Linked DNA regions of Homo sapiens. The protein of the gene in region 4 interacts with the protein of the main gene of each other region in a biochemical or structural test. Each region holds a gene or a part of one and is shown on either strand. Other genes may lie near its edges.

Evidence for each region.
Region 1: the proteins of SIRT3 (region 4) and PDP1 form a complex in vitro, tested with the Homo sapiens proteins (one study listed by BioGRID).
Region 2: the proteins of SIRT3 (region 4) and HSPD1 form a complex in vitro, tested with the Homo sapiens proteins (one study listed by BioGRID).
Region 3: the proteins of SIRT3 (region 4) and SKP2 form a complex in vitro, tested with the Homo sapiens proteins (one study listed by BioGRID).

What each region holds. Positions count from the first base shown.
Region 1 is NC_000008.11:93,912,357-93,919,943, reverse strand, and holds the start of PDP1 (pyruvate dehyrogenase phosphatase catalytic subunit 1), read right to left. Parts: upstream 3,022-7,587; 5' UTR 2,865-3,021; exon of another isoform or gene 2,726-2,864; intron 2,609-2,725; exon of another isoform or gene 2,361-2,608; coding exon of another isoform or gene 2,278-2,360; intron 2,034-2,277; coding exon of another isoform or gene 1,999-2,033; intron 849-1,998; exon of another isoform or gene 811-848; coding exon of another isoform or gene 801-810; intron 1-800. UniProt on the Homo sapiens protein: Mitochondrial enzyme that catalyzes the dephosphorylation and concomitant reactivation of the alpha subunit of the E1 component of the pyruvate dehydrogenase complex (PDC), thereby stimulating the conversion of pyruvate into acetyl-CoA.
Region 2 is NC_000002.12:197,489,837-197,496,867, forward strand, and holds part of HSPD1 (60 kDa heat shock protein, mitochondrial), read right to left. Parts: intron 5,541-7,031; coding exon 5,458-5,540; intron 4,917-5,457; coding exon 4,821-4,916; intron 4,415-4,820; coding exon 4,321-4,414; intron 3,657-4,320; coding exon 3,488-3,656; intron 461-3,487; coding exon 361-460; intron 1-360. UniProt on the Homo sapiens protein: Chaperonin implicated in mitochondrial protein import and macromolecular assembly. Together with Hsp10, facilitates the correct folding of imported proteins.
Region 3 is NC_000005.10:36,155,109-36,162,139, forward strand, and holds part of SKP2 (S-phase kinase-associated protein 2), read left to right. Parts: intron 1-7,031. UniProt on the Homo sapiens protein: Substrate recognition component of a SCF (SKP1-CUL1-F-box protein) E3 ubiquitin-protein ligase complex which mediates the ubiquitination and subsequent proteasomal degradation of target proteins involved in cell cycle progression, signal transduction and transcription.
Region 4 is NC_000011.10:214,529-219,372, reverse strand, and holds the end of SIRT3 (NAD-dependent protein deacetylase sirtuin-3, mitochondrial), read left to right. Parts: exon of another isoform or gene 1-331; coding exon 332-541; coding exon of another isoform or gene 542-595; intron 596-2,654; coding exon 2,655-2,675; 3' UTR 2,676-4,343; downstream 4,344-4,844.

The DNA.
Region 1 (7,587 bases), on a different chromosome or scaffold from region 4:
GAATACCTGAAAGTCATCCAGAGGTTAAGTGTACATGACTGAGCCAGAAGATGTGCTCAAATGTTGGGCCACATGACAGTGGCTTCCATACTTAAACCATATCTCTTTTTAGGTTTGCGTGCAGAAAGCATATCAACTCATTTTGTGCTTTGAATAAAGGTTTTCTATCATTAAAAATGTAAACTAATGTAATCTTAATGAATTTTTCTTCATAATTTTATGACTGCATTTGCTCTTTCTTTAAAACTTAAGAATCTTACAGAAAAAAACAATGAAAATGTGCCTGTATGGAACGTAAACTGACTCAAAATACTATTTGTGTGGGGGGGAGGGAGGGTTGATAGATGCATAACAGGGTTTGATTGTTTAATTAAGGAATAACAAGTCCTGGAAACCTGCACTTTCCTTAAATTCCTTTGCTTCGACATTTTTTTGCCGGGGGGGGGGAGGGAGGGCAGCGGGGGGAGGAATTTTGCTCTTGTTGCCCAGGCTGAAGTGCAATGGCGTGATCTCAGCTCATCGCAACCTCCGCCTCCCTGGTTCAAGCGATTCTCCTGCCCGGCTAATTCTGTATTTTCAGTAGAGATGGGGTTTCACCATGTTGGTCAGGTTGGTCTCGAACTCCTGACCTCAGGCCATCCACCCGCCTCAGCCTCCCAAAGTGCTGGGATTACAGGCATGAGCCACTGCACCCGGCTTGGTATGACATCTTTTCTACTTTTGTAATTGACTGCAAAATGAATGAAATCTAGTGACAAAAAGCAATGATTGACACAGCAGGTGCTTTTAACAATACTTACGTTCAAACATCAAATTCTCCACTACATTTTTCCTTCAAGGCAAAAATTCTTGAGATTAAAAACAAAAAATGAGAGAGTGAATTTTATTGACTCTATCTTTCAGTTATGCAGAGGCTTAGTACATGGACTGAGATTATATCCTAATGCCCCAACTTCCAACATGCCTTCAAAAGACAAAATTCCTAGGGAAGTTGGAATTTATGAAAACTGTGCTGTAATTAATGAGCGTTCTATCCGCATCGGTACAAGTGATACATTCTCTCCATCAGATCAGATACCCTTGGGAGTCAAAGTACTTTCAAATGCTTTCATAAATAAGTAAGCAATGAAAAACTCTTAATATCCTTCAGATTATCCACTGATTCAACAACAAGAAAACACTCTACATCATAACTTTTGCTGACAAGCTTGTTAAATTAGTGTAGAAGGCTCTTGATCAGGCAATAAGAACAGCATCCAGGTACAACTGTTGGTAAAACAGAGCAGTGTCAAATTTGCAAGTTATTCTTGATCACAATTTTCACGGAAAATTTCCTATTCCATGATCTAGACTCAGCCACGTTGTATGTAGCATCTTCATCCCAGGCAGATTGGGCTGATTTTGCCAATGACTAATAAAGAAAGATGCACTGCAACCAGAAACAGGAAAGAGAGCCGTCCATTCTTACTGATGTGCTTAGCAGAGCCTGTGCCAAGACATTTTTTCCACTCCATCAATAGACCCACGGACCAAATTAATTAGCAAATGCTATTAAGGCACCGACTCCAGAGCCCTTTAGCTTTGCAAAGCTTCTGATGTAAATGAAAAAGAAAAGCTATGCTAATCATTTAATGTGTCGGAACCCCAGTTTATGTAATCCGATTGCATTAAACACTCTACATAAAGACCATCCGCGATTTTTCAACATTTTTCTGGAAATGCCTAGCCATTTCACAGCTCCTGCTATCTTTTTACATAAATGAAGAAAGATACGAAGCACCACACGCCAGTATTTTTTTGATTAGTTTCCTTTGTCGCTACCTGAAAAACTGCACTCACAAAGACATCAAAGCTATCTCAATCCAAGACGCGTTTGTCCCTTTTTCCAATCTATCTCATCCCTTAATACCACGCTGATTCATCTAAAACCATCCATACACAAAAATCTGTCACCATCCTTCCTGGGTACCCAACGCAGGTAGTTAAGTGAATACCTACCAATTCGTCTGGGCCCGGGACACACACACATTCTCCTGTCATCACAACACGGAGCCGACAACATCCACAACCCGCGCGGGCAGCAGCAGCGACAGCAGCACCGGCCCATTGAAAGCAAGGCAGAGATGCTCATTAGAGGAGGCGGCGGCGGGGAGGCGGGAGCGGAGGAGGGGCGAGGTCTCGCTCCAGCCCGGTGAATGGGCTGGGAGGTGGGGGGGAAGAGGATGGAGGAGGGATAAAGGGGTGGAGAGAACAAGGAAGCCAACCAAACCAACCCACCCCGCCGGGGAGGCAAAGCCACAGCCCAAGGCAGCGGGGCCCAGGCGCGAGCAGGGGTGCGCCCCGAGGGCCAGCCCCTCCATCCAGCCGGGGCGCGAAGCCCATGGACTGCAGCCCCGCCCGCTGCCCGCCCCGCCCTGCCCGGCCCGGCCCCGCCCCAGGGGTGCCCGTTTCAGTCCAGACGAACAGGGGCCGGCCGGTGTCAGGCTGCCAGCGGGGCCAGCCCTGACCCGGGGTGCGTCAGGGAGACCCTCAGGCAGTGCCGCAGCCCTACAGCCTCCCTGGAGCTCACTCTGCCGCCGGCCCCGCGGCGCCCTTCGTGCTGACAGCTGGAGCGCAGGGGCCGGAAGACGCTAGGGCTGCACGGCGCCCCCGCCCCCGCCCCCAGCCCCCCGACGGCCCCCAGCGCCGCCACGCCCGCCCCACAGCCCGGACGCCCGGCGCGCACCTGGCGCTCCAGGGCTCGTCCAGCCCTCCGCACGCCCGCGGCCGCCGATCCGCGAGCACGCCCGGCGCCCCCTCACAACTTTGGACGGGTGGAGGATCCCGGACGGGGCGGCTCGTGGCAGGGAGTAGGGAATACGAACCGGGCACGGCAGGAGACCAAACGATTCTTCCCGACGAGGAGGGGGCGACAACGACGCCACCGCTCGGCGCTCTTTCCACGCAGCCCCGTGCAGCTCCCGGAGCGCGAGCCCTCACCCCCGGCCTGCCCACTCTGCTCCCCTACCGTGCGGGGCCGCCACCCTGCCCCGCCCGCACGTTCGGGCCGGAGTGCTTCCCGCCTGCCGATTGGCTGCGCAGTGACGAGTGGGAGGGGAGGCGGAGAGGGCTGCGGCCGGGGGTGGGGCGGGGGCGGAAGAGGAGCGCGCTCCCCGCCAGCTTTGTGACGTCACGGGGGTCAGACAATCCCTTCCATTCGGCGCGAGCCGCCCATTGGTTCCCCGGGCCCGCCTCACGTGACCCCCCCCCCCCCGCCCCCAGCGAGTGGAAGGTGTGGCTGCGCGGCGCTAGGGAGCGGTGGTCTGTGGAGCTCGGCGGTGTTGGCTGAGCAGGCTGCGGGGTCGGGAGAGGGGAGGCGCCTGGGCCGGCTCCAATGTCTTCGCGTGCATGGGGCCCGAGGAACGGGCTGCTCCCCTGTCGTGCAGGCTTCCTAGAATCTCTGGCACCTCTGCGGGGATGCGGTGGTGTGGGTGGCCGGCCCAGCGGCCAAGCCTCCCCTGCGCCTCGCGGTTGGGTGCGGGCTTCCCAGGGTAGGCTGCGGGAGCGGCTCCCAGCCTCACGGGAACCTCAACTCCCTGCGGCTCACCCCAGCCTGCGGTACAAGGCGTAGCAAAGAACCTCGAGAGTAGCTGTTGCTTCGTTCGTTTGATACGTTGCAGATTTTAGGAGCATTAACGCCCATCATGTTTTCTATCGCCCCAGGGAGAGGAAGCAGGTGTAGACAGCAGCAAGAGGGAGTTGTGATGAGGGAATTATCTCTGTAGCGTAGATGTGTGCTCACGTTCTCTGAGGAGTTTTGAAATCAGTATTGTTTCCGTTGCCCTGAATGGTTACAAGGAGAGAACACTGGACTTGGAGTCAGAAAACTTTCATCCAAGTCATTCCCTGCTCTAAGTCCCATTTCTGTTCCATGAGATTGTTTCCACCTCAGATGAGATTAGACTTAAGGTGGCATTGGTATTGTCTGTGGTAAAACAAGATATCTTCGAGGGCTCTTCAGTGACTTACATCCATACATCCCTTTTATGGGATAGTGGCTTCTGAAAGCTTCCTTGGCAGTGGCAGATAGAGCATTGCACTTATCTTCCCTAGTGTTCACCAATAAGTTGACTTTGATTTATTACACATAACTTCTTACTAGCCAGTCAGGTTCACAAAATGATGTGGAGTGAATTTCTTTTTATGTAATAAAAAACGTTATATACCCAAACTGGTCCTTTATAACTCCTGGATCTTTCAAGTTGCTGTATTCTCTGTTCTCTAAATAAACTAGAGGAGACTGTTTTTGCCCATCCCCAGGTTACCCATGGAACTTTTGTGGCTAGTCTGTCTGGCCTTCATCCCAGTTTTTACAGGTCCATCTGCCTCCCTTCATCCTCTCCTTTTTGCTTCTCAAATGGGCTTCCCATAAATTGCAAATATTCTCCACTACTCTTCCTGTCATTTAATTTAAGTATCTGGTTTCTTCTTCATAGATGCATAGGATGGTGTAGCCTAGTGATTAAGAGTGCAGCTGGAGCCAAGCTGGCTGGGTTCCATTCCCAGCTCTGCAGCTTTCTGTGTGGTCATGGGCAACTCTGCATGCCTCATTCTCTCACATATAAGATAAAAATGTAAAAAGTAATAGCAGGGCTGTATTAAGAGAGTTGACATATATAGCTTGCTAAGAAAGTACATAGCATGTAGTGTTATATAAGTGTTAGCTATTCTTGATATTATCGACATGTCCAGGTCAGTGTTTTAGATTAAGAACTCCTAGCAAGTAGGAGACCCAGGCCCCCAAGTGCATTATATTCTATTGTTAGGTACTAATAAGTTATTAATAGAATGGAGAATCTTTGAACCTTAGAATATCAGTTTAAATTCATTTATATAGAGGATCTCTGCCTCTTAACCCTTACTTTGTGGACATAGAGACCCACTTAACTGAAGCTGTGAGTGGAATTTTAAGAGTTTCTGCTTTATGACCCAGAAATGAAGTACATACTAGACTTCTCTGTTGTCTTATCAACTTTTTCCTGGCCAGGCTTGGTGGGCTCCTGCCTGTAATCCCAGCACTTTGGGAGGCCGGGGCGGAAGAATTGCTTGAGCCCAGAGACCAGCCTGAGCAACATAGACCTCATCTCTACAAAGAATCTAAAAAGCAATTAGCTGGGTGTGGTGGCGCCTGCCTATAGTCTCTGCTACTCAGGAGGCTTGCCTGATCCCAGGAAGCTGAGGCTGCTGTAAGCAGTGATGCATCACTGCACTCCAGCCTAGGCGAGTAAGCAAGTTCCCGTCTCAAAAAAAACAAAAAGCTTTTTTTTTTAATGGTTGTGAAATAGAGTAGTAAGAATCCAACATCCAGGCCAGGTGCGGTGGCTCACACCTGTAATCCCAGCACTTTGGGAGGCCAAGACAGGTGGATTGCTTGAGGACAGGAGTTTGAGACCAGCCTGGCCAACATGGTGAAACCCTATCTCTACTAAAAATACAAAAAATTAGCCGGGTGTGGTGGTAGGCATCTGTAATCCCAGCTACTTGGGAGGCTGAGGCAGGAGAATTGCTTGAATCTGGGAGGTGGAGGTTGCAGTGAGCTGAGATTGCAGCACTGCACTCCAGCCTGGGCAACAGAGTGAGACTCCATCTCCAAAAAAAAAACAGAGTCCAACATCCATATCAAATGACCTCTTCAAAGCTGTTACCTTAGTAGCAACCCTTATTCCACACTGACATTGCCATTATTCAGAGCACTTTTAAAACTCCCTTTTCAAATTGTTTTCAGATCTGCACAGGAAACTCCAACTTGTTTTACTATAACCAACACTTTGGTTTTATACCAGAATAGTATTGATTCCCATCTTATTCTTCTTAGTTCTGAATGACCTGGATATTTCTAAAAATAACACCCACTCTCAAAAAAACTGGTATTTGCCACCACTAAATATAGTCAAAAGAATTTTGACATAAGTATTGAATGCCAAGGTGTTTTTGAAATCAGAATAAAGCCTTCCTAAAGTGATAGCTTTGAAATAATCTCATTTACAGGTATAAGTTTTGTCCTCTGGTTGTAAAGTTGTATGGTTCAGTGAGAGGTATATTATAAATAAACTACCCTTCTGCAGAGGTACCAACTGCTGGTACAACTGGAGGAGATTCTTTAGTATCTCAACCTTGATTCTCCTCTGGCCTGGCTTTGTTCCTGTTTCTAGATGGAGCTCCATTTAGCCACCCACTGGGCTTGCTTCAAAAGTGCTGTTTGTTATCACATGGCCAACTGGCCAGGGCCAGAACAGGTCCTTGGGTTTACTGCGTTGACCCCAGACTGTTTTAGCCACCAGAGCACTTGTTGATACTTCAACATTGGAAAGTGTTGGAAAGCAGCACTGAAACAACCCAGGAACGTTGTCGAGAAGGTAGGGAAGGAGAGAGGAAGGGGCTTCAAAAATAGTATGGTACTAAGAAAGCAATGTGCAAAATCACCTGTTTACACAAATGCTTTCTGTGATAAACAAAAATGCAATGACATTTCCTGAATATGAACCTTAACATTTAGTCATCCATTTGCCCTAGGATGGATTTGAAAATGAGCAATGCTTGATCAGATTGGCCTGATGTTCTTGGGGGCAGGTGATAAGACCCTTAGGGGTATTGGAGGTTAGCTTTGACAACATGGAGATGATCCAGCAGTCTCAGTGGTGCCAGCCAAGAAGCTTAAAATAAACCTGCATGTGGGTCTGAGATGCCCTCACCCTGATGGTTACTGATTTACTGTGGCCTTTGCCAAAATCAGCAGTCACAGGGGAAAGAGGCTGGTTTACCATACTCCTCTAGCACCTGTTTCCCTACAGGTCTTGGCTAGGAAATCAGCAAGAAATTGCCAAGTAACTAAAGAATGGCTACCTGTTTTATTACCATGTCAGTGTCGGGAGTTCCTTCTTTGAAATTAAGTTGTTTGGAGTTAGCAGTGAGATTGACGAATCATCTATACAAAAGAAACAACACGTACTGTGGTTCATCTCCTTTGGACCAGAGACTGTTCTAGATGCTTTCACATTTGTCTGATTTTATATTTGGAAAGGAATCCATTCTCATCAGAATTCATGAGACAATAGAATGTTCAAGGGGGGAAAAGCTTTATTCTCTTACAAAATGAGAGACCAAAGGCTCTTGGCTGGCAGGCAGTAAGTTTCTGTGTACTAATTGAACATGACAGAGAATACAAAAAGTAGGTGTCTGGGGTTGCGTAATGATAGAATTCAAGTGCTTTACCAAGAGTATTGCATACCTGTGGACCTGAGATTGGCACATACTTCAAAAATTCCTGTTAGTTAGGCTATCTTCAAATACTAAAGGTGACATGTATGGGCAAGAGGGGAGAGATGAAAGGGGAGGTAGGTGTTGGTGTTAGTATCTGGCCATCAGGCAATTTGGCAAGATTAATTTTTTATTCAGTATAATTCTGTAGGTGGATTCCCCAAAGCACAGAGGGTATGAGGTGGAGGACAGGCTTCCGGGGAACTGAGACATTGGGGTGTGTCTAGAGCACTTCCTACAATAGGTGCCAGTCATGGCTGCCCCGAAGCAGGTCCTGCCAATCTACAGACT
Region 2 (7,031 bases), on a different chromosome or scaffold from region 4:
AGATCAAGACACCCTGTCTCAAAAAAAAAAAGAAACCCCACAGATTTAAGTCAATAAGAATAGTCAATATAGATCAAGTCAAGAATAGTCAAGACAGATCAAGACACTGTCTCCAAAAAAAACAAAAAAAAGGAAACCCCCTTATTCAGTCAATAAGATTTAGTCAATATAGAATAGTCAGTAAGCTCATTCTTAGGCCAGACTTGTGGCAAATTAACGGGAATTTAATCCAACCCCTACCTTCCAAAGAGCCAAAAGAAACAGATAGTTGTAGTATCTAATTGTGAAATGTTAAACTATCTATAAATTCCAGACAAGTATAAACATTCAGCAAACCATTATCACATTTATTTTACTTACTGCACCACCAGTAGCAATAGCCATATCTTTAAGCTGGTTCTTTCTATTGTCACCAAACCCTGGAGCCTTGACTGCCACAACCTGAAGACCAACCTTTAGCCTGTTAAGAATAGTTGATAGTAAGATTTAAATGAAATAAAAATGCCTATCTGTTTAATTCCCCTCAAGCTGTTACTAGATTACTTAGGACTCCCTAAGTAATCTGGTTTGGTTTTTGTGTTTTTTTGTTTTTTTTTTGCTTCCTAGCAATTTTTGATCAAATTAAGACAGGAAGTATCTGAGACAGTTTAGGCTATTTTCTATTAATTATACTTGTCCATATCCGTTTACCTTCTTAATAAACTGTTGGCCTGGCCGGGCGTGGTGACTCAGGCCTGTAATCCCGGCACTTTGCAAGGCCCAGGCAGGTGGATCACGAGGTCAGGAGTTCGAGACCAGCCTGGCCAAGATGGTGAAACCCTGTCTCTACTGAAAATAACAAAAATCAGCCAAATGTGGTAGCAGGCACCTGTAATCCCCACTACTCAGGAGGCCGAGCAGCAAAAATCACATCACAGTAAGTTATAGGATACAGTGATAACTATTATGAATGGTAGAAAAACAGTAATTACTAAATATTACATTTGAGGGTCATTTAATAAACATCTCCATATATTAATGCTGAGTTTTGAATGAGCAATGTTCTGAATTCACTTCTTTTATAAATGTTATACAAAAAGCTGACAGTATTGTTAAGCTCACCTGAAATTTTTACCAGGTAAATGAATACTTGGAATGTGTAATCAAATGTCCATTTGAGAGCAGATTGTGAAACAGAAGCAACGTTCAAACTTCAAGACAGCTGGTCTATTTTATTAAGGACCCAAATAAAAATCAGAGGAATAAGCTATATGCTATGTAAACTGGATATCCCACTTTTCAACTAGCAGTAAAATGGCTTAATGAAAACTCTGTAGGCTTGTTTTTTTCTGGCCTCAAGTCTTTTTTTTGTGTGTTTTTTTTTTTTTTTGAGACAGAGTCTTGCTCTGTCGCCCAGGCTGGAGTGCAGTGGCGAGATCTCGGCTCACTGCAACCTCCGCCTCCTGGGTTTACGCCATTCTCCTGCCTCAGCCCGCCACCACGCCCAGCTAATTTTTTGTATTTTTAGTAGAGACGGGGTTTCACCGTATTAGCCAGGATGGTCTCCATCTCCTGACCTCATGATCCACCCGCCTCGGCTTCCCAAACTGCTGGGATTACAGGCATGAGTCACCACGCCCAGCCAAGTCTTTTCTTAATCCCTCCAAAAAAGCAAATCCAAGCTAAGAAAAACATTCCAGGGTAAGGCAGCTCATTAGAGCTTTTGGGTCAGATGAGCACGTGTAATGTCTAAAACGTACCTGTTAATGTATGCATTTCTACTATAACAAAATGGAAAGAAAAGTCTTGCTTCTGACATACTTCAATTCTGAGATAAGGAAGAACAAACATTTTAATAATGCCCTTAGATTGTCTGCAGCATGAACATTACCTGTCTTAAAGTTTAAACTAATAGTAAACTATAGCTTAAAATGTAGATTTAAATAAGTGACTAGACCTCACCTTATTTTAGATTGGGTGCTATTTTCTCTACTTCAGACTATTTAGTAAACATTTAACAACAGACTAAATACTTGATCACAGCCAAGGGTAGTGGCTCATGCCTGTAATCCCAGCACTTTGGGAGGCTGAGGTGGGAGAATCACTTAAGATTCACCAACAGTTTAAGACTAGCCTAGGCAACATATTGAGGCAACATATTGAGACCTCGTCTCTACAAAAAAATTAAAAGATCAGCCAAGTGTGCTTGTGCAAGTGTGTAGTCCCAGCTACTTGGGAGGCTGAGGCAGGAGGATTGCTTGACCCCAAGAGTTCAAGGCTGCAGTGAGCTATGATCGTGCCGCCGCAGGCCAGCCTGGGTGACAGAGTCTGTCTCTCAAAATAAATAAAAATATTCGATGGTGAAATACACTTACATCTGAGTTATTTATTTAGAGACAGAGTCTCGCTTTGTTGCCCAGGCTGGGGTGCAGCAGCACAATCTCGGATCACTGCAACTTCCGCCTCCCAGATTCAAGTGATTCTCCTGCCTCAGCCTCTGAGTAGCTGGGATTACAGGCACACGCCACCATGCTCTGCTAATTTTTATATTTTTAGTAGAGACGGGGTTTCACTATGTTGGCCAGGCTGGTCTGGAACTCCTGATCTCAGGTGATCCACCCGCCTGTGCCTCCCCAAGTGCTGGGATTATAGCTGTGAGCCACCATGCCTGGCTCTGAGTTATTTGGAAGTTAGTTGTTTACTTCCCTGTTCTATGCAAAATAATATTCTGAAAATTTACATATTTTTAACCAGAAAAACCTTAAAAAAACAAAACAAAACAAAACAAAAAACAAGATTGACACTTGAACCCCGGAGGCTTGAGCTGAGATTGAGCCACTGCACTACTGCACTCCAGCCTGGGTGACAGAGACTCTGTCTCCAAAAATAAAAATAAAAAATAAAAAAATTACAAGGCCGGGCGCAGTGGCTCACACCTGTAATCCCAGCACTTTGGGAGGCTGAGGCGGGCGGATCACGAGGTCAGGAGTTTGAGACCAGCCTGGCCAATATGGTGAAACCCTGTCTCTACTAAAAATACAAAAATTAGTCAGGTGTGGTGGCACGCACCTGTAGTCCCAGCTGCTTGGGAGGCTGAGGCAGAACTGTTTGAACCTAGGAGATGGAGATTGCAGTGAGCCAAGATTATGCCACTGCACTCCAGCCTGGGCCAGGGAGTGAGACTCTGTCTCAAAAAAAAAAAATACAAGATTCAGTCATGTGCCTTCAAAACAACTGTAAACACTTGCAAAATACAGAAAGGTACCCATGTGCTAAATTAGTCTATTCTATGAGAAAGCTGATCAAAATAGTAAAGACTTTGGGGTTCCTTCAAAAACACAACCATAAGGATACATTAGAGCACACCTGATTTACACAATTACAATTCTAGATACAAACCCAACTGGATCAAATGTGGAGGTACACATGATGGAAACTGCAAACAGCAATACAAATAATTCTGTCTTTCACCGAGAAATATAAATCAACAAATACCACTGCTTATTACCTATTCAAGACGAGTGTACTTAGAGCTTCTCCATCAACATCTTCAGCGATTATGACCAAAGGCTTACGGTGAGCATTGGCAATTTCAAGAGCAGGTACAATGGACTGGATACTAGAAATTTTCTTTTCACTCAACAGAACATAGGCATCCTGGAATTCACATTTCTGACCTGTAAAAATAATGAAGATTTCAAAAATATACAAAAAATGACTGCAATACATTTAAATGAAAAGCGAAACCAAGGTTCCAATACACTTTAAAATTCACCAGTGAGTTGGTTTTCCTCCTTCATTTCTCATATGCATTAACTTTTGGAATATATACATTTATTTTTTAGAGGATGACACCAACTAATACCTATAGTTTGACACATATTAGAAAGTATATTTTAAAAACTTCAGGAGGCCAAAGCAGGCAGATGACTTGAGGCCAGGAATTCAAAACCAGCCTGGCCAACATGGCTAAACCTTGTCTCTATTAAAAAATTCAAAAATTGGCCAGGCACAGAGCCTCATACCTATAATCCCAGCACTTTGGGAGGCCAAGGTGGGTGGATCACCTGAGGTCAGGAGTTAAGAGACCAGCCTGGCCAACATGGTGAAACCCCATCTCTACTAAAAATACAAAAATCAGCCTGGCATGGTGGCGTGTGACTGTAATCCCAGCTACTTGGGAGACTGAGGCAAGAGAATCACTTGAACCCGGAAGGCGGAGGTTGCAGTGAGCAACGCGCCACCACATCATGCCACTGCACTCCAGCCGGGGCAACAGAGAATGAGACTCTGTCTAAAATAATAAAAATAATAATAATTCAGTTATTGATTTGTTCTTACCTTTTGATGTATTAATAAAGTATGGAGAAATATAGCCTCGATCAAACTTCATGCCTTCAATAATTTCTAATTCATCATTCAGTGTTTTTCCATCCTATGAAAAGTCAAAGAATTAGGTATATGGATTTCATTGAACACAAAACATGGAATTACAGGCCAGATTAATAAAAACAGACCCCTCTGGCCATAAGAGATGCAGGGTAGAGTATGAAACAGCCCAGGACATCCAATTACACTTCTGCAAAAAATCCCAAAAGTGCTTATTTGAATAATCATTTAAGTTAGGATGGATTCATTTCATGCAGCAAAGGCTAATTCACATAAAACACAGTAAGTACTTTATTCTATACATGTGCTGAGACTACATATGAAGGAATAAAAAAAGCAGTTTTTAAAACAGAATTTTTCTGTTTGAAAAATTCAGTTTTGATCATCAGATAACTCAAACTTTTGATCATAAGATAACTCAAAATTATCTTTAAAAATACAAACACACTTGCCTTTACTGTGATGACACCCTTTCTTCCAACTTTTTTCATTGCATCAGAGATGATATTGCCAATTTCTTTGTCTCCGTTTGCAGAAATCGTAGCAACCTGAAATAATCCAGTTACTCTTCGAAATTAAAAGGTAAGCCTAGTGTCCTCAGTCAGTTCCCTTACCTTTTCCTAGTAACTTCCAAATTGATACTTCCATCCAGGGGAGAGAAGGGGAATTTACGTTATGGTAGTTTTCATGAAGTACTGGTTCTTTGCTCTTTTCCGATTCATTATTTGACTACATTGTTTTGAAGAATATGATACATAAAACTATTCTTGTAACAAAAAGTTTAAAAATGCTGACTTCATTACAAACTGACAAAACTTATGCACCTTTGACAATGGCTAAGAACATTTTCACAATCATATGAATCCATTTTACAGCCATGTAGAACTAAAATGACAACCACATGTAGAACTAAATGACAACCATTATGGTCATAATTCTTTTCAAAGGTTTTAGCAGTAAGAAACAATGATTCTAATATTGATGATTGGGTAGTATTGTTATTCTGACATTGGTGTGATCAAGGGAAAAAAAAAATCACACATGCCATTAAATTTTTTTTAAAAAACGTGTAACATGTTAAGTCCTTACCTGTGCAATTTCTTCAGGGGTGGTCACAGGTTTAGACTGCTTTTTAAGTTCAGCAATTACAGCATCAACAGCTAACATCACACCTAGTTCAACGATATATGTCATTACAATGTTTATTTCTCTCATGGCTTCTATGTCAAGTAGAAATCTTGAGATTTGTGACAAATATTTTAATGCCTTAACTTAAAAAAAAAAATTTTTTTTTTTTTTGAGACAGGGTCTTGTTCTGCTGCCCAGGCTAGAGTGCAGTAGCACAGATCATGGCTCACTGCAGCCCTGACATCCTGGGCTCAAGGGAGTAGCTGAGACCACAGGCTCAAGCCACCATGCTCAGCTTCTTTTATTTTTGTAGACAAGGTCTCACTATGTTGCCCAAGGTGGTCTTGAACTCCTGGGCTCAAGCAATCCTCCCACCTCAGCTTCCCATGTAGCTGGGACTACAGGCATGTACCTATGCTTGGTCTTTAGTGCCTTAATATTAAATTTACACACAGCTTCTGAGACAGTGCTTCTTAATAACACAGAGTTGCGTGGCATGTACTTAAACAGTAACTTTAGGTTCACACAGTAAATAAAATCTCACAATGCCAAAATTTTGAAAATAGGACTAAAACAAGGTAGATGTGTGTAGTTTCAAAAGTCTCACCACTGAACTCATCCTATGCAAATTCCTAACCCAATCATGCTGTTTCCAATAGGGTCCACGACACTTCTCATGTCCATTAGATGATGCAAAAAAGGACCAAAATGGCTAACACTCCCTTATTTTCAACAAGAAGTACAGTTCTTAAATGATAGGAATCTGTTGTGACTATGCCTCTGCAGGTGTCAATTATCTGAAATCCCCTCAATTTAGTACGTATTATGAACTAACAAAATATTTTTGTTTTACATCAGTCTTAATAGTCCCATTTTGCTCAATTGGGAATAGTGCTAGCTCTCTTGTTTGAGAACTGTTACTTCAAAAAAAATCCAATGCAAGGTGCTGGTAAGTCCTCTTCATAACCTTAATTAATACTTGTTAGTGATTTACAGTAAAACTGCTTTTAGTGAAGTATATTCACTTGGCCCATAAACACTGAAATAGATGAGGTAATGATACATTAGTAATGTAGTAATAAATTAGTATGCCAATTCTGACAAAAAATTACCAATAGCTCCCCCCACCTTCACTTACAAGAGGGTTCCTGGTTTGAACCCTAACATACCCTAGATATACATAGCAATTCTGCTGATAGGAAAACCAAGTCTTAGCACACAGCTAATAAATGACAAACATGGGACTAGAATTTAAGTCTATACTGCCATGAACCTCATGAGGAGGAGCAAATTGTTAATTAAGTTGCACTCTAGTTACAAGCACTAACAAAACACAAACCAATAACATGGTGTGTGCTATTAAGAAAAAATAAACTGAGGAAAACATTACTTTCTGACATTCTGAATGATCCAGTGTATTTAGTCTTACTTTCTACAAAACTAAACTAAAAATTAGCCAGGAATGGTGGTGAGTGCCTGTAGTAGTCCCAGCTACTTGGAGGCTGAGGCAGGAGGATTGCTTGAGCCCAGGAGTT
Region 3 (7,031 bases), on a different chromosome or scaffold from region 4:
GATTGGTTGGTTGCTCGCTTTGGCAGCACATATACTGAAACTGGAAATACAGAGAAGATTAGCATGGCCCCTGCGCAGGAAGACATGCGGATTCGAGATGCATTCCACTTTTAATTAAGAAAATAAATACGTTTGTTTTCAGCCTTTTCTTTAGGAAAGAGAACTTTGCCCAATTTATGGTCTGGGAATATACATCAGGAATTGGATTAGTTAGAAAAGCAGTAGAGGGTTGTAGTGAAGTCAGATCTGGGTTTGAATCCTCATTCTTGCGTTTATCAGCCTTGGAAAGTTATTCGAGCTTTCTTTGCCTTAGTTCCTTTATCTGTGAAATGGAGTGCTGTAATAATACCCACTTCACAGGTCGTCGTGAAGATTAAATGAGAATGACGTAAAACCCTTAGCATGCCACTGACACGTAACAATACATAAGCCAACAAAATTCCTGACACCAATTTTGGAGGCTAGTGGACTTTTATCTTTTGTTTTTAATATTGTTACTCTGACCCTGTTAGTATAAAATTTTTTTTCTTCAAAATTTAATGTTCACCGCTCTTCTTTGTGTCTGGAATGTAGCCCTAACAATCTGGTGCTTGACCAACCAAATATGGCGAAAGATACTTCCTGCTAAGATGAACAGATTTTTATTAACCTGTCCAGTGCCGATAGCTTTTGACATAGAGTGTGATTGCTATATGCCCTTCCACAAGTGAAAAAGAATTTTTTTTAAGCAAGGCACTGTGGGAACAAGACAGAAGTTTCCGGAGTCTTTGCTATTTCCCAGGAATTTGCAAGTCAAGTTGAGGAGAAAATACAATAAAAAATAAGAGCTGTGATTCCCATTCAGGTGGATGTGGAAGATCTTCCTCCTTCCACTCAGCAAGAAAGGAGATTCTGAGGAAAGAGAGGGCTCTGAAAATGGTGTAATCAGTGTCTTGATGGTTAAAGCTGACTTCAAAAGTATATATCTGAAGGGAGAGAGAAAGAATGGTGACTTTTATGTTTATTACCTAAGGAGAGGCACAGAGGGAAACCAATGTACGTGGACTTACAACAGAGATTGCTTAATTGGTGTGGAGTGGGGAAGGGTGAAATCAGTGATGCAGGATGAGGGACAGCTGGTATAGAGGATTCCCAATGGGCCTTTGGAAGCCTGGGCCTCCAGTGGAGCCGGATTGTCATTCCAAGGAGTTTTGTCTGCAGTTGTCAGGACAGGTGGCTACTAGCTTTGCCAGGATTAGGGTAGAACAGGCCACACCTGCTGTACATAGATATCTGATGACTGGTTCTGGGCTGCAAGTTTTTGTTGGTTCTTTGCTAAGCAGTTTCTCCCTGCAGGCCCCAGTCCAGCCGTACATCTGGCAACTAAATCCTCTTCATCCGTTTATCTGGGAAGATGAAAGCTCTGTGGCCAACCTGTACTAGAACAGGTCTGATTGGCCCTTGGAGTGAGTGTATGGAAAGAGTTGGGGAGGAAATGGCCCAGCAATGAGGTCAGTAACAGGCGGAAAGGGGACAATTGCATTTTATTTATGGTCATGAAATGCTTGTCCCCCACCCCACCCTTTAAACAGGTGATAGCCATGAAAATGGAGGTGAACTAATTTGTTGATCAGCTCTTCCATGACTCTTAAATGCTTGAAATTCCAGACCCTAAAGTGGTTGTCAGACTGGAGATACTAAAATTTACTGTATATCAGAATCCCCACAGGAACTTGTTCAAAGTGTAAAATTCCTGAGATTCTGATCCGGGGAGTCCTGGCCTGAGTGAGCCTGGGAATCTGTGTCTTAATACCCTTAGGCAAGCATTTTTTCCAACTTTTTTTTTTTAACCAGTAAGAAACATATTTTACATTGCAATCCTGGGTATGTATCTGAAACAGCAGTTTTACAAAACTGTATTTCCCCTTACTAAGATATTTTCTATTCTGTTCTAGTTCATTCTTTATATGTACATATATGCTAGTCAAACCCACTAAATTGATTTCATGATCTATGTGAGTCTCAGTCTACAGTTACTAAACTCAGCACTGGAAGAGCCTTTATGGGATCTTCCCAGTCATCTTTCTTTGTTCCATAGCTTCCTTTCATTCATCCATTAAGCAAATATTTCTCAAGCACCGTTTTAGAGGTTGGGACTACAATACTGAACATAACAGGCAAGAGACCCTGCCCTCATAGTGCTTATACACTGTTCCATATTTTTTCCAAATCCCAGCTTCTGTTGTTTCTTCATTACACCCCCTACACCTCAGGGTTGAGCAAGTCTTTCATAGAAATAAAGGGTTGTGGGACTGAAGGGGTACATGGGGGAATCCTTGTTAAGTTTGGCTGTGTTTTGTTTTTTTCAGTTTTGCCCACCTTAGCCAAAAAAACAAAAACACCCAAAGCCAACATGGCCTCAAATGTATTATTTATGGTTTGTGGGAAGAGGAAGGAGAACTCATCTGGGATGGCACAATCTGTTTGTAGTTCCCCAGAAAGAAAGCATGGGGTATTGCTACTTAAAACAAGCCAGCAAAAGCAATTCTGAGGTGAGCACCCCCCAACTCCCTGAAAGAAATGCACACACACACAAAAACAAGTATGAGTACCAGGTCCTCAGTATACATTTCTGCAAGTATAATCTGATTATGCTTAAAGAGCAGCAATTTTTTAAGTCAAAAGTTTGATTATGATTAGCATTACTTTGGATTTTCAGCTTGAATCTGAGTGGAGTGGAGTGATGTTCTGAGAAATAAATGAGTGGAGTGATATTCTGAGAAATAAATATGTCAAGTAAGATGAGTTACCTACACTGCAAAGATGGAATGCATAGAAAACTCTCCAACAAGGCCCTCTTCCCAGAGAATTTCAGGAAGCATGAGATGTGATAAGGTTACAGAAGTGGGAAACTGGGTTTGCACCTGAGAAATAATTGGAAACAGTGGTAGGTGAGGGTGATTGTAGTAGGTTTGCTGGTTTGGCCCAGTTTTTGCCCTTTCCTGGCCCTGAAGTATATTTAACTGCCGTCCATGTCATTGAAGACTGGAGACCTTGGGCTCAGTAATTATGTCTTTTAATGTGGGTCTGGTATGCAGCTACAGCCTTGCTGGATTTAGCAGAGACAAGTGGAGAAAAGACCTCTGGATTTTTCCTTCCGCTCTCTGCAAACAGACCAGGCAGCAGTTTCATCATGAATTCAGGAAACAGATGGCTAATGTTTTGAGAATTAAATATGGCAAGGAAAATTAGATTAAGCATATCACAGCCTGGATGCCTATTGCTAGAGCAGCTATTAAAGACAAACTTCTGCCCCATCTGCTGGGACAGCAGCCCATATCAGGCTGTGGTACCCCCACCCGGGGCCCCTAGGATTAGTGTCATTCTGTGGTCAGCTGAGTAAGAGCACTGGGTACTTGGCTGCTAGCTGAGTATGTGTGTTTTCTAGGACCTTGCTCCTTCCATTTGGTGGTGAACCCATTGATAGCATCTTTGTTTTATTTTCTCTCTCCTCCTCCACTCACTCCCTAGCCCTGATTGATTTCTGTTTCCATAGCAAGTCCGGGTTTAATTCTCACCTTTTCAAAATTTGTACTTACAACAGAGGAGAGCATAGAATATTAGAACCCACTAGGATGGAAAGGGCATGATTTGAAATCAGACCTGAGTTTAAATTCCCCCTCTGCCACTTACTGATTGTGTGACCTTGTCTCTTTTATCATAGTTGCATGTTTTCTTGAAGCCCCAGCCCCCATCTCCCAGAGACTACAGCTATACTGATAGAGGACATTCCCTTCTGCTCTGGGTTTTTGTCTTCAGCCTCATCCCCTCCATATGCCAACAGTGCTGTGCACATAGTCGTTAATTGGTTAATAAGGGTTAGCCATTCACACTAATAAAGAATTAGCACATTCACCATTTGAATGAAGAGGGCTAATAAATACATTTGGCAAATATTTATAGAGTCCTGTTATGTGCCAGGCATTGTTAGGTAATGGATGTGCAAATCTGGGCATGGGGCCTGTGGTGGTATCCTGGGTGGGAATGCTTCTTTGAGCAGGTGCCATTTAAGCTGAAATCTGGAGGAGTTGGGAAGGCAAAGATGGAAGTTGCAACACAAAGTCCTCCAGACTTTGGAGTCTCACATGCAGTCTTCATTGGTTAGGTCTACTGACCTCTGCATTCATCACTATGCCAGATTTTCCTCTAGCACTTTAATTACCTGGCTGCTACTGCTCTTTTAATTGGTCCTGATTTCTTATGTCTTCCTAATAGAAAGCACCAAGTTTGTTAATTTATTTCTCCTGCCCTGTACTTCATAGCAAGCTTTTCTAATTTCCTTTCCCCAGCCATAATTTCTGTTGGTGCCCTATCTATAGCCCCTTGAAGCCCCCCATTCCCTTACATGCCAAAGCTTTTGCCTACGTGTAGATGAGATTCCATGCCTGAGGGCTTTCTCTGGGCAGGAATACTGGGGAGTCCCCAAATAGTGACCAACAGCAATTGATGGATTAATACCCCAGCACTCGTGCCCTTGGTTGAGACAGCTCTGGGGTAGTTTCTAGATGGTTTACTGGAGTCCCCAGAAGATTTGAACCCCAATTGCCCATAGGGATAACCTGCCTATTAGCCTACTCCAGGTTGGCTTTCTTCCCTTCCACCTCTGTCTTCTCCACTCTTTCTAGTGCTTCCTGGCATCACTTCCCAAATAAACTACTTGAAGTCAGAGCTTCAGAATCTGCTTCTGGGGGACCCAAACTTAAATAAAGGGCAGATACGGGGTTTTGGTAAGTCATACCATGCAGACCTTGTCCAGTGTCTGCCCATGGGTGAAAATTCAGAGCAGCACTGAAAAGGTCATTGCATGAAGAAAATACCCAGACTTAACTGGGAAAGGAGAGGAATATAGAAAAGAAAGTTTTACTCCCTGCTGCATTATTTAATCTTTTCTTGTACCTCATTTACTCTTCACTGAACAATTTTGCAAGATAAATCTGTCAATTTCCTTTCCTGCAGGTAAAGAAACTGAGGCCAGAAAGATTAAGTAACTTGCCCAAGTTCACAGACTTGGGGCAACACAGCCAGGATTCTGATAGAAACTGTGCTGCTTTCTCAGTCCAGTAGTCCTCAAATGTGTTGAGGAGGCCCAGCGTATGGTGTCAGTATGATTTTTACAGATTATAGTAAAATCTCAACATATTAGATTCAAAATAGCTAAGTATGTTATTGAAGTATAGTTAAGCTTACTCTTCCATAGAGGCCACTTCCTCCAGGAAGGCTTCCTTAACCTCTGCACCATTCCCATGTGCTGCACAGCACCCTGAATCCTGCTGTAGCCCATCAGGATAGTTTATTGAAATTTCCTGTTTAATTGTTTGTCTGTATCTCTCAAACTCAGAGTAGAATAAGGGTCAGGATTGTACCTTACTTATTGTTGTGGCCCAAAACCTAGAACAGACCTCAGTGTATATAGTACATGGTTAATAAATACGTGAGTGGATGACTATACTTATAGCTAAATATAGTTATGCCCAATCAATTACTAGATTCTGATCTAGATATGTAAGAGGCAGCAGAGGTCTGAGAGAGTTGGATTAATGGGAGAAAAACTTGAGAAAAGCCTGTCATTCAACTTTGTTTTCAATTTGGGGAGCAGGGCAAGAGCCTGGTTTGAGAACCTTTGTCCCCTGCCCATGTTGACTTTGGAGGAACTTTGTGGCAGTGATGGAACAGCTGCCACGTCGAGGAGCCTCCTCACAACCTCCAGCTGCCTCCCCAGATCAGCAGGGGTGATCTGCCTTCAGCTTTCTACCCCTAGCTTTCAGGGCCTCAGTCAGTCCTTTAATTTTGTCCCCTGAAGGGCGTGAGGCTAGGGGAACAGGCATTCATTGAACAACTGTGTATCTCCTACTCATTCTTCAAGAGAGGCCACTTCCTCCAGAAAGGCTTCCCTAACCCCTGCGCCATTCCCATAAGCTGCACAGCACCCCGAATCCTACTGTAGCCCATCAGGATAGGTTATTGAAGTTTCCTGTTTGTCTATATCTCTCAAACTCTGAGCAGAATAAGGGTCAGGATTGTGCCTTATTTATCATTGTGTCCTTAAAACCTAGAATAGACCTCAGTGTATAGTACATATTTTATAAATATGGGAGTGGATGAATGTATCAATTTTATGCTAGTTCCTGAAAATACAAAAATTGTTAAAAAAAAAAAAAAAAGCGTTTTTGTTTCTCAAGAGCTCCTGGGGGTCTAGAGAGATGAGTAAGTAAATAATGAAATTATGGTACATAAGTGGCCTGTCCTTGTTGATGTCACGGGAGGCCTTCTGTGGGAACTGGGGCTTCCATTTGATTTTAAATGAATAGTAGTTGGAGGCAAGCACAGGATGTGCAAAAGCATTGAGATACGGCACAGAATGACTCATTCTAAGAATTACAGGTAGCTCCAAATGGCTGGAACACATTTCTAGATAACAAACCTAGGAAAACTAGTTGAGACCTGGCTGAAAGCGTTTAACTTTGTACTAAGCATTGTGGACTTTAGCCTAAATACCTGGGGTGTACCACTGAAGGATTCTAACTGGGGGAAAGACATGCTGGTTTAGAAAGACTGCCCAGGGCAGCAGGTGTTTGTCACACTCCTCGGTGTTTTTCTCCCTTGTGTCCTCAAACCCACTTATACAGGGCCTGGTACAAAGGACATGCTCAGTAAAGACTGGCACCTTTAAATGGGAGTAGGAGGAGAGAATATCACCAGAATTGGTGTAGAAGATCCATCAGAGGTGGAAAGCCTAGGAAGGCAATCATTGAACTCATCTGACTGTTTTTTAGGATTCCTTCATTGTGCATTTATTTCCTTCTTGGCAATTGTTACATTATCCTGAGCTTGTGGGATTATTCTATGTATTCATATGTAAGAGTTTCATACTTGTTGAATAGTTATTTAGAGATTGCTTCTATGAAAGAAAACTGCGCTTCCTGCATCCACCTTTCTGTTCTAAACACAGCAGCCAGAGTGATCCTTTTTGAACTTACGTGAGGGCCTGTCAT
Region 4 (4,844 bases):
GGAGGACAGGGAGAACAGAACGTGCTCACAAAGAGGAGGCAGGAAGGTTGGATCCCTGATGAGCCTTGGAACGGAGGTGGGGAAAAGCAAGGATGTGTGGAAACAGCAAGAAGTGGGAGAGAGAGAGAGAGGCGGAGGGGAGAAAACCGTCACGGAGGCCAAGCGGCAGGAGCTCAGCTGAAGAAATGAGATTGGTGGTGGGTTTTCCCTATATCGCAGGCTCTGACTGCCAATCTGCTGCTCCTCCAAGGCCTCGGTGGCTGTGGCATGAAACATCCTGAGGAGCTTGTAAAGTGGACACTGTGCCCCTCACGTTTGGCCCATTTTTCAGGTGGAGCCTTTTGCCAGCTTGACCGAGGCCGTGCGGAGCTCAGTTCCCCGACTGCTCATCAACCGGGACTTGGTGGGGCCCTTGGCTTGGCATCCTCGCAGCAGGGACGTGGCCCAGCTGGGGGACGTGGTTCACGGCGTGGAAAGCCTAGTGGAGCTTCTGGGCTGGACAGAAGAGATGCGGGACCTTGTGCAGCGGGAAACTGGGAAGGTACAGACTGCTGAGGAGGACCATCCAAGGGGCTGCCCTTCTCACTGCTCTAGGGTATGGTCCACCTGATATGGAGCCCCGTTGGTTAACACAGTAACAGTAATAGCTGATGATGCTGTGAATCCTGCACCAGGCACTACCTGGACCTGACTGGGTGTTACTTTCAATACCTCCATTTAGAGATGAGGAAACAGATGCTAACAGGCCAAGCAGGGACACGGTCCAGACACTCAGGGCTGATGAGTCTGTATTCTTAACAGACTATAGGCGTTACCTTCACTCCCTAAAATAAAGCAGCCAACAGTGTCCCTCTAAGGCCTGGTATGTGATTCTAAGATGATACGGGTTAAAGAACTTTGAGAAGCTAAAGTTCTCTGCATCTATGTGGGATGAAGGCTACATGAGTGATGCTTTTCGGAAGTAATTGGTATGAGAGCCATTGATCAATTATAATCCGCTGAGGAAAGCCAAAGAGCCTTGATGCTTTCTAAGAGATTTCAAACCGCCTATAAACAAGTGAAGTTACAGAAAATGCAGTTTCCCATAAGAATCATGTAGCATGTGTAGCCTTGATATTAAGGGTTTTCAATGGGAGGTGGTAGCATTAAGCATTTAAAGTCCAGTGTCATGATTACAGGCAGGTGTAACACTGTCCAAAGGGGATTTCACCAGTGTATTAGTCTGTTCTCTGGCTGCTCATAAAGGCATACCTGAGACTGGGTAATTTATAAAGGAAAGAGGTTTAATGGACTCACAGTTCCATATGGCTGTGGGGGCCTCACAATCATAGTGGAAGGCAAAGCAGGAGCAAAGTACTGTCTTACAAGGTGGCAGGCAAGAGGACGTGTGCGGGGGAACTGCCCTTTATAAAACTATCAGATCTTGTGAGACTTATTCACTATCAGAAGAAGAGTGTGGGAAAGACCCGCCCCCATGATTCAGTTACTTCCACTTGGCCCCACCCTTGACACATGGGGATGATTACAATTCAAGGTGAGATTTGGGTGGGGACACAGCCAAACCATATCAACTACAATATATCACAGTTGATGCTCCTCTTGCCTTCCAAGGCAGATGTCTTAGGAAATCCTGATCCTTTTTCCTTGTCCACAGCTGTGGCTGCCTCATGGCTCAGGGCCATGGGGTCAGCACTCTCCTCACCTCCACCAGTCCAAGACCTCCAACCTCTGGTTGCAGGCTGATTTTTTACCAATCATGGTCACTTCATTATGGAGGCAGGGAACCCAGCTAACAATGAGGCTTAAACGCTGAGAGGCGAGTGCCTCCTGGCCAGCTCACAAGGCAGCGGAGATCTTAGATCAGCCCAGCAGGCTTTTTTGAGGGATCCTTTTCCTGCTCCAACTTCATATTTTCTTTTTTTTGTAATGGAGTTTCACTCTTGTTGCCCAAGCTGGAGTGCAATGGCACGATTTTGGCTCACTGCAGCCCTGCCTCCTGGGTTCAAGTGATTCTCCTGCCTCAGCCTCCTGAGCAGCTGGGATTACAGGCATGTGCCACCATGCCTGGCTAATTTCTGTACTTTTATTAGAGATGGGATTTCATCATGTTAGTCAGGCTGGTCTCAAACTCCTGACCTCGGGTGATCCACCTGCCTCAGCCTCCCAAAGTGCTGGGATTATAGGCATGAGCCAGCAGGCCCGGCCCAACTTCCTGTTTTCATAGAAAAGCAGATTGTAACTCTGGTAGCTCCTGTGGAGTTTTGGAAGTGGCTTAATAGGATTTGAACTGTATAATCTAGTTTCAGAGAAATGTATGTAAAATGGGTTATGATTTCATTTTCTGTTTTTTACAGCATTACTATCCAAGGGGTTACTTTTCCAAATAGTGAATGCTTTTAAGCACATGAGCATCAGTACATATTGATTTGGGTACTTTAAGACCCATAGAATGAGGCTCTCCATTTAGCCACCCTGTTCTGCCCAGGCCTGCTGGGATCCTCTTAGCCCAGCACAGCAGCAGCAGTATTTGCAGAAAGCAGCTTGTTTTGTGAAATATTTTGCATGTCTGCAGCTAGAGCTGTTTGAACAGAGATCTGCTGGCCTGCCTGGGTGTGTAAACAGATAGCTGATACCCTCTGTCTTCTGTATTCCAGCTTGATGGACCAGACAAATAGGATGATGGCTGCCCCCACACAATAAATGGTAACATAGGAGACATCCACATCCCAATTCTGACAAGACCTCATGCCTGAAGACAGCTTGGGCAGGTGAAACCAGAATATGTGAACTGAGTGGACACCCGAGGCTGCCACTGGAATGTCTTCTCAGGCCATGAGCTGCAGTGACTGGTAGGGCTGTGTTTACAGTCAGGGCCACCCCGTCACATATACAAAGGAGCTGCCTGCCTGTTTGCTGTGTTGAACTCTTCACTCTGCTGAAGCTCCTAATGGAAAAAGCTTTCTTCTGACTGTGACCCTCTTGAACTGAATCAGACCAACTGGAATCCCAGACCGAGTCTGCTTTCTGTGCCTAGTTGAACGGCAAGCTCGGCATCTGTTGGTTACAAGATCCAGACTTGGGCCGAGCGGTCCCCAGCCCTCTTCATGTTCCGAAGTGTAGTCTTGAGGCCCTGGTGCCGCACTTCTAGCATGTTGGTCTCCTTTAGTGGGGCTATTTTTAATGAGAGAAAATCTGTTCTTTCCAGCATGAAATACATTTAGTCTCCTCAAAGGGACTGCAGGTGTTGACATGAGTTGGAAAGGGAACCCTGGGATACGTGGCGTCCCCTCTATTGGAACAGTCTGAGGACTGAAGGCATTTGTCCCTGGATTTATTGGAGACGGCCCAGCTCCTCCCTCTGAAGGTGGTCACATTCTGTTGACTCTCCATACTCAGCCTCTCCTCCAGAAACAGATCTGTTCCAGAACATTCCAGCACTTTCTATCTGGCCTCCTTGTCCCCACACTACGCCCCCCCACCCTCGCCAGGGCTTCCTCTAGTGACACTGTTAGAGCTAATCTCTGAGACAGGGAAGGCATTACTCACTTAAAACCCAGGCTGAGTCCTGGCCACCTGCTGGATTGTGACATAGGAGGTGGAATCCACTGAACTGCTACTTCTGCACAGGCTCCTTCTCCTGGGGCTGTACCCAGGCCCAGCCCTGATGGCTCACCCTGTCAGGCACCAGCTGCTCCCTCCTGGGCTCTCACCCACCTGCACATCCTCCTTCCTAGCATCACATTACCTGCGTGTTTCCCCAGACAAAAGCACTTCCCATTCTTGAACCTTGCCTACCCTGGGCTGAGCTGACGGCAATAGATTTAATGACAGTGACTCCCAGGAAGGGGGTCCTGTGACTTTGCGCCTTAATAAGAACAAAAGGTGGAATTGGTGACCTAGGAAAACTGTTGAATTCTAAAAAGAATGAAGTTAGTTTCTAACCCTAGTTAATGTTCCTTTTTTATTTTTTGAGTCTTGCCCTGTCACTCAGGGTGGAGTGCGGTGTTATGATCTCAGCTCACTGCAACTTCCGCCTCCCGGGTTTAAGCGATTCTCCTGGGTAGCTGGGATTACAGGTGTGTCCCACCACACCTAGCACATGGGCATATTTGTAATAGAGACAAGGTTTTGCTATGTTGGCCAGGCTGGTCTCGAACTCCTGGCTTCAAGTGATCCACCCACCTCGGCCTCCCAAAGTGCTGGGATTACAGGCATGAGCCACTGTGCCTGGCCCCTTTATTTGATAATTTACACATACATTTTTGTCCAAAACTCTTCTTTATTTCAAGATGATGTTTCTGTGGCTATGTGTGGTATGTGGTATAAATCTCAATCTATGGTCACACGAGGGGCATTTTCCTTGTTGTAAGTGTAGTCTAAACCAGTAGGAAGGAGGTTTAATTGCCAAAACCAGCGAGAACTCGGGCACTGTGGATACTACAGTGGGCAGCTGAACGAGGACCAAGGAGAATGTCTAAGAGGCCTCCAGCCCTGCGCTCAGTGAAGACAGGACAGGAACAACAGAGCATACATACCTTGGAAGGGTGTGTTCTGATATACTCGTATGGAAAGTTCTGACAGGTTTTCTCCCTGGGAAGTGCAGCACATACCCCAACACACTGGCTCTGCCAGTGTGCCAATCCCAGATGGTGCTTGCTTTGTGTGCACCCACACCCAAACCCCTGCCCTCCCATATGCTCTTCTGTGTGCCCAGGTAGGCCCTGCCCTCAGGCAGCAGCTTCTGAACACATTCCTCTTGGCGCAGACAAAAGAAAGTACTTCGTCTGTGGAATTCGAGGCTGAGCCTGAGTTCTAGCACAAGAAGACCGTTGCAGTCCAGAGAT